2 linked regions of the Homo sapiens genome follow. The protein of the gene in region 1 interacts with the protein of each later gene in a pairwise test. Each region holds a gene or a part of one and is shown on either strand. Other genes may lie near its edges. The genes, in order: KHK and GLP1R.

Region 1 (3,813 bases):
CTTACAACTCCTTTAAATAGTAACTTTCCCAAAGCATTGGAAATATGGTTTGGTTTGCCAAATAACTTTCGCACCCCAGTGCCTGGGACATGGTAGGTGCTCTCTAAATGTTTGTCGAGCACATGGGGAGAATTCTGAATAAACCACCCATTGGCCTGATTGCTATGTAAAGGAGAGTCGACCATCCTAAGCCAGAGCCACAGTCCTGCCTCTAGCTCAGAGGAAAGGAGCTATTAAAGAGGTTTAATGAGTCACCAGCCCTTGGTTCTGAGCCGTCCTGTCCCATCTCACAGGGCAGATTCTCTCCCTCTATTCTCTTCCTGCCAGTTCATCAAGGCAGGGAGTTTGGCTGTAGCTCAGGTGGTTGGACTCTGCCAGCAGCCCCCTTCAAACCAGGGTTCAAAGGGCTGCCCTTCACAGGCCAGCAACCTGGCAGCCTGCCCCCGTGCCCACAGTGTGCAAAGTGTGGGCCTCACCTCCCGATAAGTGCTTGCTGAGTCGGCAGCGCCAGGGGTCAAAGGGCTCTGAGGTCCCTGCAGCAGCCAACATGGAGGGCGTGCATGAGCCATTTAGGGCTATAGCCCTGACAGCCGGGGAACTGGGAGGTGTGGGTTCTGAGCCCAGCTTTAGCATGTGGCTTCAGGGTGTCCTTGAACAGGGTACTCTCACTGCTTCAGTGAACAACAGGGACATGAGCACCAGCCCTGCCTCTCAACTGGGACAGAAACTGTGGGCCTGGACCTGGGGGAGGATGGGTACCACGTGTCCCTAACTGCCTTCTGCCTCAAGCATGGCCAGGATAAGGGACTTAAGATAAGGCAAAGGCACATCCACCGCAGAGTCTGCAGGAAGCAAGGAAGGAGAAAGGAAGAGGCTGAAGCAGGCTCCAGAAGTGTCCAGGAAACAAGCTGTGGCAAGGAAAGCTTCACAGGGGCAGCATCAGCCCCCGAACCGCAGAGAGGCCACGCCAAGGCAGGGCTGGGCGTCTGGTGCTCCGCCATGCCCCCTCCCCGCGTTTCTGCTGGACACAACCCATTTCTAATCCCCCATCCACCCAGGGTGGATACATCCTTCTTCTCCCACAATGATGCAGGCAGGCCTTCCCCAGTGGGCTCTCCCTCCTGGACTTACTCAGCAACATGGCCAGGAGCCATTGAGCCCATGAAGGCACAGGGGGCTCCGAGCAGGGAGAGAACGGTGCAGGAGTTGGACGCGTTGCCTCCGCGCTGCCATCTCTGGGACAAACACCTGCAAAGCACAGGGAGGGTCCCTGCAGCCCCAGCAGGCTGATCCCAAGCACAGTCTCCTGTATAGGGGCCTACAGAATGTAACAGCTGGGGACTCCTCTCAGAAAGCATCTAGGCCGACGTCTCACTTTGTACCCGGGGCAGCCGAGGCCGGCCAAGGGAAGGAGCTTGGCTGAGAGCGGTGTCTACCTCCCCAGCCCAGGCTAAATTCAAGCTGACAGCAGTTCCTTTCAATATTTCCATCTGTTCCTAGGGCAACAGGAAACCACTCACTTGGGTCCATCACTATTCGAGAGACCCACTAACTCCAGGTCATCTCCTCCTCACCTTTCACCCCAGTCAGAGCTGCTCCAGACGCTGCACCTTTGGCCTCCTCCTTGAGAGCTGGAGCAACTCCAAGGACCTCGGGGACTAAGTGCCTCTTCCCAAAGGTATCACATTTACACCTACCCCTGTGTTAGGAGTGTCTACTTCAATAGAAACTGCAGAGCTATAAAATCAAACGAGTAAGACAGGACAGCAAACCTGGACGTTGGTCGTTTAAGAAGTGGCAGCAGGGAGCACTTCTCCATCTTTACTAAAAACCAACCAAAAGGAAACTAACAAGACACACGTGAAGGGCTTCATTGTCATCAGCAGCAAAAATGATAACTTCCACATAGAGGGTCAACGCACTGATCCCCTCACAGTGTTACTGGAGCCCAAATGAGAAATCATTAATGAATGTTATTACCTTTGAGGTAAGAATGGTGGTGTTATTTCTATTGTGCCAGTTCCAATAATAATAATAATTGTGGCAGTTTACAATAAAAGGAACAGTACCAAAGAACCACGAATTAAGAGAAAAAACCGAACCAGAATTTTTAGGCCAAAGCATATTTGTACGCGAAACTTCAGTTTTGGGAAAAGGGGAGCACGATGTCATTAGAAAAAAAATGATAGTAGGACAGGCACAGTGGCTTATGCCTATAATCCCAGCACTTTGGGAGGCCAAAGCAGGAGGATCACTTGAGCCCAGAAGTTCGAGACCAGCCTGGGCAACCAAAGGGAGCTCTTGTCTCTAAAAAAAAAAAAAAAATTAAAAATTAGCTGGGTATGGTGGTGCATACCCGTGGTCCCAGCTACTCAGGAGGCTGAAGTTGGGGGAGCGTATGAGCCCGGGAGGTTTAGGCTGGGGTGAGCCATGATACTGCACTCCAGCCTGGGTGGCAGAGTGAGATCCTGTCTCAAAAACAACAATAACAACAATGACAAAGGATAGTAATTTTTTTGTTTTTTTGAGACAGAGTCACTCTGTCACCCAGGCTGGAGTGCAATGGCATGATCATGGTTCACTGCAGCCTCAACTTCCCCAGCTCAACTGATCCTCCCACCTTAGTCTCCCAAGTAGCTGGGATTATAGGTGTGCATCACCATGCCCCGCTAATTTAAAAAATTTTTTCGTAGAGATGGCATCTTCTTATGTTGCCCAGGCTGGTCCCGAACTCCTCGGCTCAAGCGATCCTCCTGCCTTGGCCTCCCAAAGTGCTGGGATTATAGGTATGAGCCACTGCACCCAGCTGGTCAAAGATTTTCAAGCTGGCCGGGCGCAGTGGCTCACGCCCATAATCTCAGCACTTTGGGAGGCTGAGGCGGGTGGATCACGAGGTCAGGAGTTCAAGACCAGCCTGGCCAAGATGTTGAAACCCTGTCTCTACTAAAAATACAAAAATGAGCCGGGTGTGGTGGCAGGTGCCTGTAATCCCTGCTACTCGGGAGGCTGAGGCAGGAGAATCTTTTGAACCCGGGAGGCAGAGGTTGCAGTGAGCCAAGATCATGCCACTGCACTCCAGCCTGGGTGACAGAGTAAGACTTTGTCTCCAAAAAAAAAAAAAAAAAAAGAAAGAAAAAAGAAAAAAAAGATTTTCAAGCTGAGCTTTACAGCTTTACAGAAATTTTTACGAAAAGATATGAAAAAAAAGGAGGAATCTCGAGGGATCTGACTTGATCAATAGTTAAGGACAAAGCTGATGTGGGAACCCAATTTCCTGACCCCAAAGCCATTGCTAATTACTCCGTATTTTAAAACTAAAAGTTGTTAGGCCCAAGCATTGAGGTTTCTAAGAAAGGATATAGAATTTTACTCTGGGGAAACCCTTCAAAGTCACACTGATATTTCCTGTGCAGAAATGCTCAGCTAAAGGCTGGGCGCGGTGGCTCACGCCTGTAATCCCAGCACTTTGGGAGGCTGAGGCAGGCGGATCGCCTGACGTCGGGAGTTCGAGACCATCCTGACCAACATGGAGAAACCCCATCTCTACTGAAAGTACAAAATTAGTTGGGTGTGGTGGCACATGCCTGTAATCCCAGCTACTCGGGATGCTGAGGCAGGAGAATTGCTTGAACTCTGGAGGCGGAGGTTGCAGTGAGCCAAGATCGCACCATTGCACTCCAGCCTGGGCAACAAGAGCAAAACTCCAACTCAAAAAATAAAAAAAAGGACACGTCCCAGGGGTCTGGCTGAGCTCCAGGTGGCGGCTCCCAAGAGTCCCCAACTGCCTGTCAAGCACAGAGACCCTAGGACAGG
Region 2 (3,813 bases), on another chromosome or scaffold:
GAAGAAGAGTCCATGGGAGAGGTCCAGAATGACTCGAGATCTCTGCCCTGCCCCTCAGACTTGCCAAGTCCACGCTGACACTCATCCCCCTGCTGGGGACTCATGAGGTCATCTTTGCCTTTGTGATGGACGAGCACGCCCGGGGGACCCTGCGCTTCATCAAGCTGTTTACAGAGCTCTCCTTCACCTCCTTCCAGGTGACTTCATGCTTGGGGACACTTGCTTGTAAAGTCCTAGAGTGGGGGTGGGACAGACACCAGCCTGCATCATGCAGATGGAAAAGGTGGGAAGACTGGGACCTGGAGGGGTGATCCCTGCCCAAAGTCACCTAGTTGGAGCAGAGCCAGAACTAGTATCCCCAGGTGTCCCAATACCTGGGCCAGTCTTCTCTGTAAGCACATGGGACAAGAAGCCTTCCTGGATGTAGCTCTGGGTACCAGCCTGGCATTGCAGCTGCCATCTACTTGGTGGCGAGCACCCTGCCAGGTGCTTTACATGCATTGTGCATTTACTCCTCACAGAACCCAGGAGATGTGCAGGGTTAGCCTCACTTTACAGAGGAGACTCAGAGGTGTTAAAACCAGAGTTACGGTGTCACAGTTTCAAAGAAAAGAACTGATCCTCTCCACTAGCATTAGATGATGCTAAGGGGGTGTAAAAATACAAAAAAACTGGTCCCTGCCTGCCCCTCAAGAGTGTCATGAGATGCCTGCACACATGTGGGCTCATGTGTGTGTATTTACATACATGTGCAGACATACAGAACACAATTCTGGAGCCCTGGGTCTCCTTCATGAACAGATGGGGCTGGAGTGGGGAATATTCTCCATGATCAGAGTCATTGTACTTCACTGGATCAGGCCTCCTCAAGGAGAGGTTGGATGTAGGATCTCTACAGCTTCTGGGCAGCTTCTGAGCAGGGTCTCCTGGACCCCATGGCACATGCCTGGGAGACCCATGGGGAGAGGCTAGCTGGGGCCTGTAGCCAGGCCTAGTCGCAGAGGTGCAACCCTGGTGTTCCTTCAGAAAGGAAATGAGAGGGAAGCCACTGCCCCATTCCTGGATCTGCCTGGGCCGCTGGATTTGGGGAGGGGGTTGTTGAGGATGGAGTCCCAAAGTGCTTCCGACCAGGGCCAGTCTGCAGGGCACCTCCCTCCTGCTTCCTCCCTCTTGATGTGACTCTTGTTTCCAGGGGCTGATGGTGGCCATATTATACTGCTTTGTCAACAATGAGGTAAGCTCTGAGGAGGGACGGTGGGGACCCTGGTGGGTGGGTACCATCAGCCCGTCTGGAGTAGTACAATGGGGACTCCCATCAATCTTGCCAGCTGAAACCCCCTACTCACCTCACTGAGGCACTAGGGTTGAGAAGCCATCTTGTCCACAGATTTGGTTTTCTGTGCATGGTCTCTCTCACACATGAACACACACACACAAGTACATGTACAGGTATACCCTAATGGCATGTGACCCTAAGGAAGACCCAGACTCATGTTAAGGGGATCCTGAATGACCCTCTTTGCTTGGTGGTAGTGACTGTCACTTACAAAGTGATTCAACACACACATACCCAAGCCACATGCTTGGGGCTTTAATAATCACTATCTCATTTAATTATGACCCCCACATCCCTCAAAAAAAAACCCTGCTAAAATTCTTATTTCATATTCCCATTTTTTATATATACATGAAAACACTGAAGATCAGAAAGAGTCAGGAACCTGCCCTAGGTTTGGAAATAGTGGCACACATCGCTTCTTAGCCTTTTGGCTAAGGTGAAGTGTGGAAATAGTGGCATGGCAGAGCCAGGATTCAAATTAATTCTGCATTAAAGCAGAAAGTACCCCATTCTTCATACACACAGGCAAGAGCCCTGGCTCACTGTGGGGAAGGGGGTGGCTTTCTGGTGCTAGGATGGGAGAAGGGGGTTCTCGCTGGCCCCACACACTCTCCTGAAAATGTCTGCAGGACAGCAGGCCTCCCTCCCATCCCTGAGATGGTCAGCTCCTGGGAGGAGGGCATGGCTGTGTTCATGGGCACCTGGAAAAGGCCCCTTCCACCAAGGTACTCAGCTTTGGAATCCCAGAGCTCAGGGATGTTGGAGTCAGCACATTAATAGGCTTGTCTTTTTCTATGGGTGTGGGGGATGCAGAAAGGACAGTGGGTGGGGACCTGGGTGTTTCAAGGAGCTATGAGATGGCTCAAAGAAGCAATGTGATGTAGCAGAAAAGATGCAAGGATGCAGGCTTTGGCATCTTATTTGGTCTGATCTGGGCCCCATCACTTAATGAGCTGTGTGACTTTGCCTAAGTTACCTGCCCACTCTGAAACTTAGTTTGCTCATTTACAAAGTGGGGATAATCCTGTGAGGATTAAGAAAGTCTGAAAAAGGTGCGAAAGGGGAACAGAGAACAAGTCCTTCCTTCAAGGTGGGATGCTGAAGGCCCATCCTAGCTCCTCACAGGTGCTGCTTGGCATGGAGAAACACACACCATTATCTCCAGATGCTCAGTAAGCAATCACTATTAGATCAGTATTCAGTGATTCCCAGAGACAGGGGCCTAAGGAATTTCAGAGGATGCCGTGCAGAGAAAATGAGGCTGGGTGAAAGGGAAGGGAGGGGAATGTTCCCTTGTCCCTGAGGCCTCCCCCTGCTTCTGCTGAACTGGCTACCTGTGGGAAGTGTGGCCCTCAGATCTCTAAATGGGAGGGAAACCAAGGTCTCTTAAGGGTTTACTGCATATAAGGTGCTCAGAGTGTCTCATTACATCCAATGCTGTGCAGCAGATGGTATCCCCAATTCACAGCTAAGAACGTTAAGCCTCAGCAAAATGAAATGAGTAGCCTAATTCAATAGACAGAAGATGGTAGAGCTAGTGGGCTGTGGCGGGGGCAAGATCCCACTTAATGCCTCAGGGAAGCAGGTGCTGGGGAGGTGAAGGCAGCGCCAGGCAAAGAGTGGCCCATAAATGGGATTCTGGCTGCTCCTGGGACAGGTCTTAGAGGACCCAGCGGCTCCGTTTGGAGGGTAGGGCAGGGAACAGGCTCGTGACCCACAGGAGGCAGTCCTGGTCCTCCTCCACTGCCATATCCTCAAAATGAGTTTCTTTAAAACTGATGCAAACGAGGAAGTGCAAAAACCTAAGCTCTGTGGGTGGCCTCCCCTCCAGGAATGCTCTCAGCCAGCTGGGTGATGCGCTACCCAGCCCTGAGCTCTGCTGCTTTCCATTCCAGCCCAGTGGTGATGGGGGCAAGACAGGGTGGCATGTATCCTGTGTGGGGATGAGGAGCAGAGGCCTGTAGGGAGAGACTGAGGCTCCCTGCTGCCACCTTGTCATCTTGACCCCCCCACGTCCCCGTTTCTCACTTCTCTATCCTCTGACACTGTCACTGCAGCCCTACTAGCAGACACGTGTGCTTGGCTTCCCCCCCGCCATTGTGAACAGTCTCCCCTGACCCCTGGCTCAGCTGCCTCTCCAGATTCCATCCTTCCAAGCCTAGTCATCTCATCACCTCCCTCCTCATGCACCACCTATGGCTGGCCCACCTTTGTAAGGGGATAGTACTTCTTTGCCCTTGGAAAAAAACTTGATCCTGAATCACCAGGGTTGCACCTCTCTGACCAGGCCTGGCTACAGACCCCAGCTAGCATCTCCCCGTGGATCTTCCAGGCTAGTGCCACGGGGTCCAGGAGACCCTGCTCAGAGAACGGGAGAACCTGTCTCCCTTCAGAGCACCAGCCAGTTCCTTTAAACCCACCCTGAGACTCCTCATGCCCTGGCTGCTCCAGGCACAAGGACAGATACATCATTG

Evidence for each region.
Region 2: the proteins of KHK (region 1) and GLP1R interact in a protein complementation assay, tested with the Homo sapiens proteins (one large-scale study listed by BioGRID).

What each region holds. Positions count from the first base shown.
Region 1 is NC_000002.12:27,089,767-27,093,579, reverse strand, and holds part of KHK (ketohexokinase), read right to left. Parts: intron 1,249-3,813; coding exon 1,132-1,248; intron 1-1,131. UniProt on the Homo sapiens protein: Catalyzes the phosphorylation of the ketose sugar fructose to fructose-1-phosphate.
Region 2 is NC_000006.12:39,079,506-39,083,318, forward strand, and holds part of GLP1R (glucagon-like peptide 1 receptor precursor), read left to right. Parts: intron 1-58; coding exon 59-197; intron 198-1,192; coding exon 1,193-1,234; intron 1,235-3,813.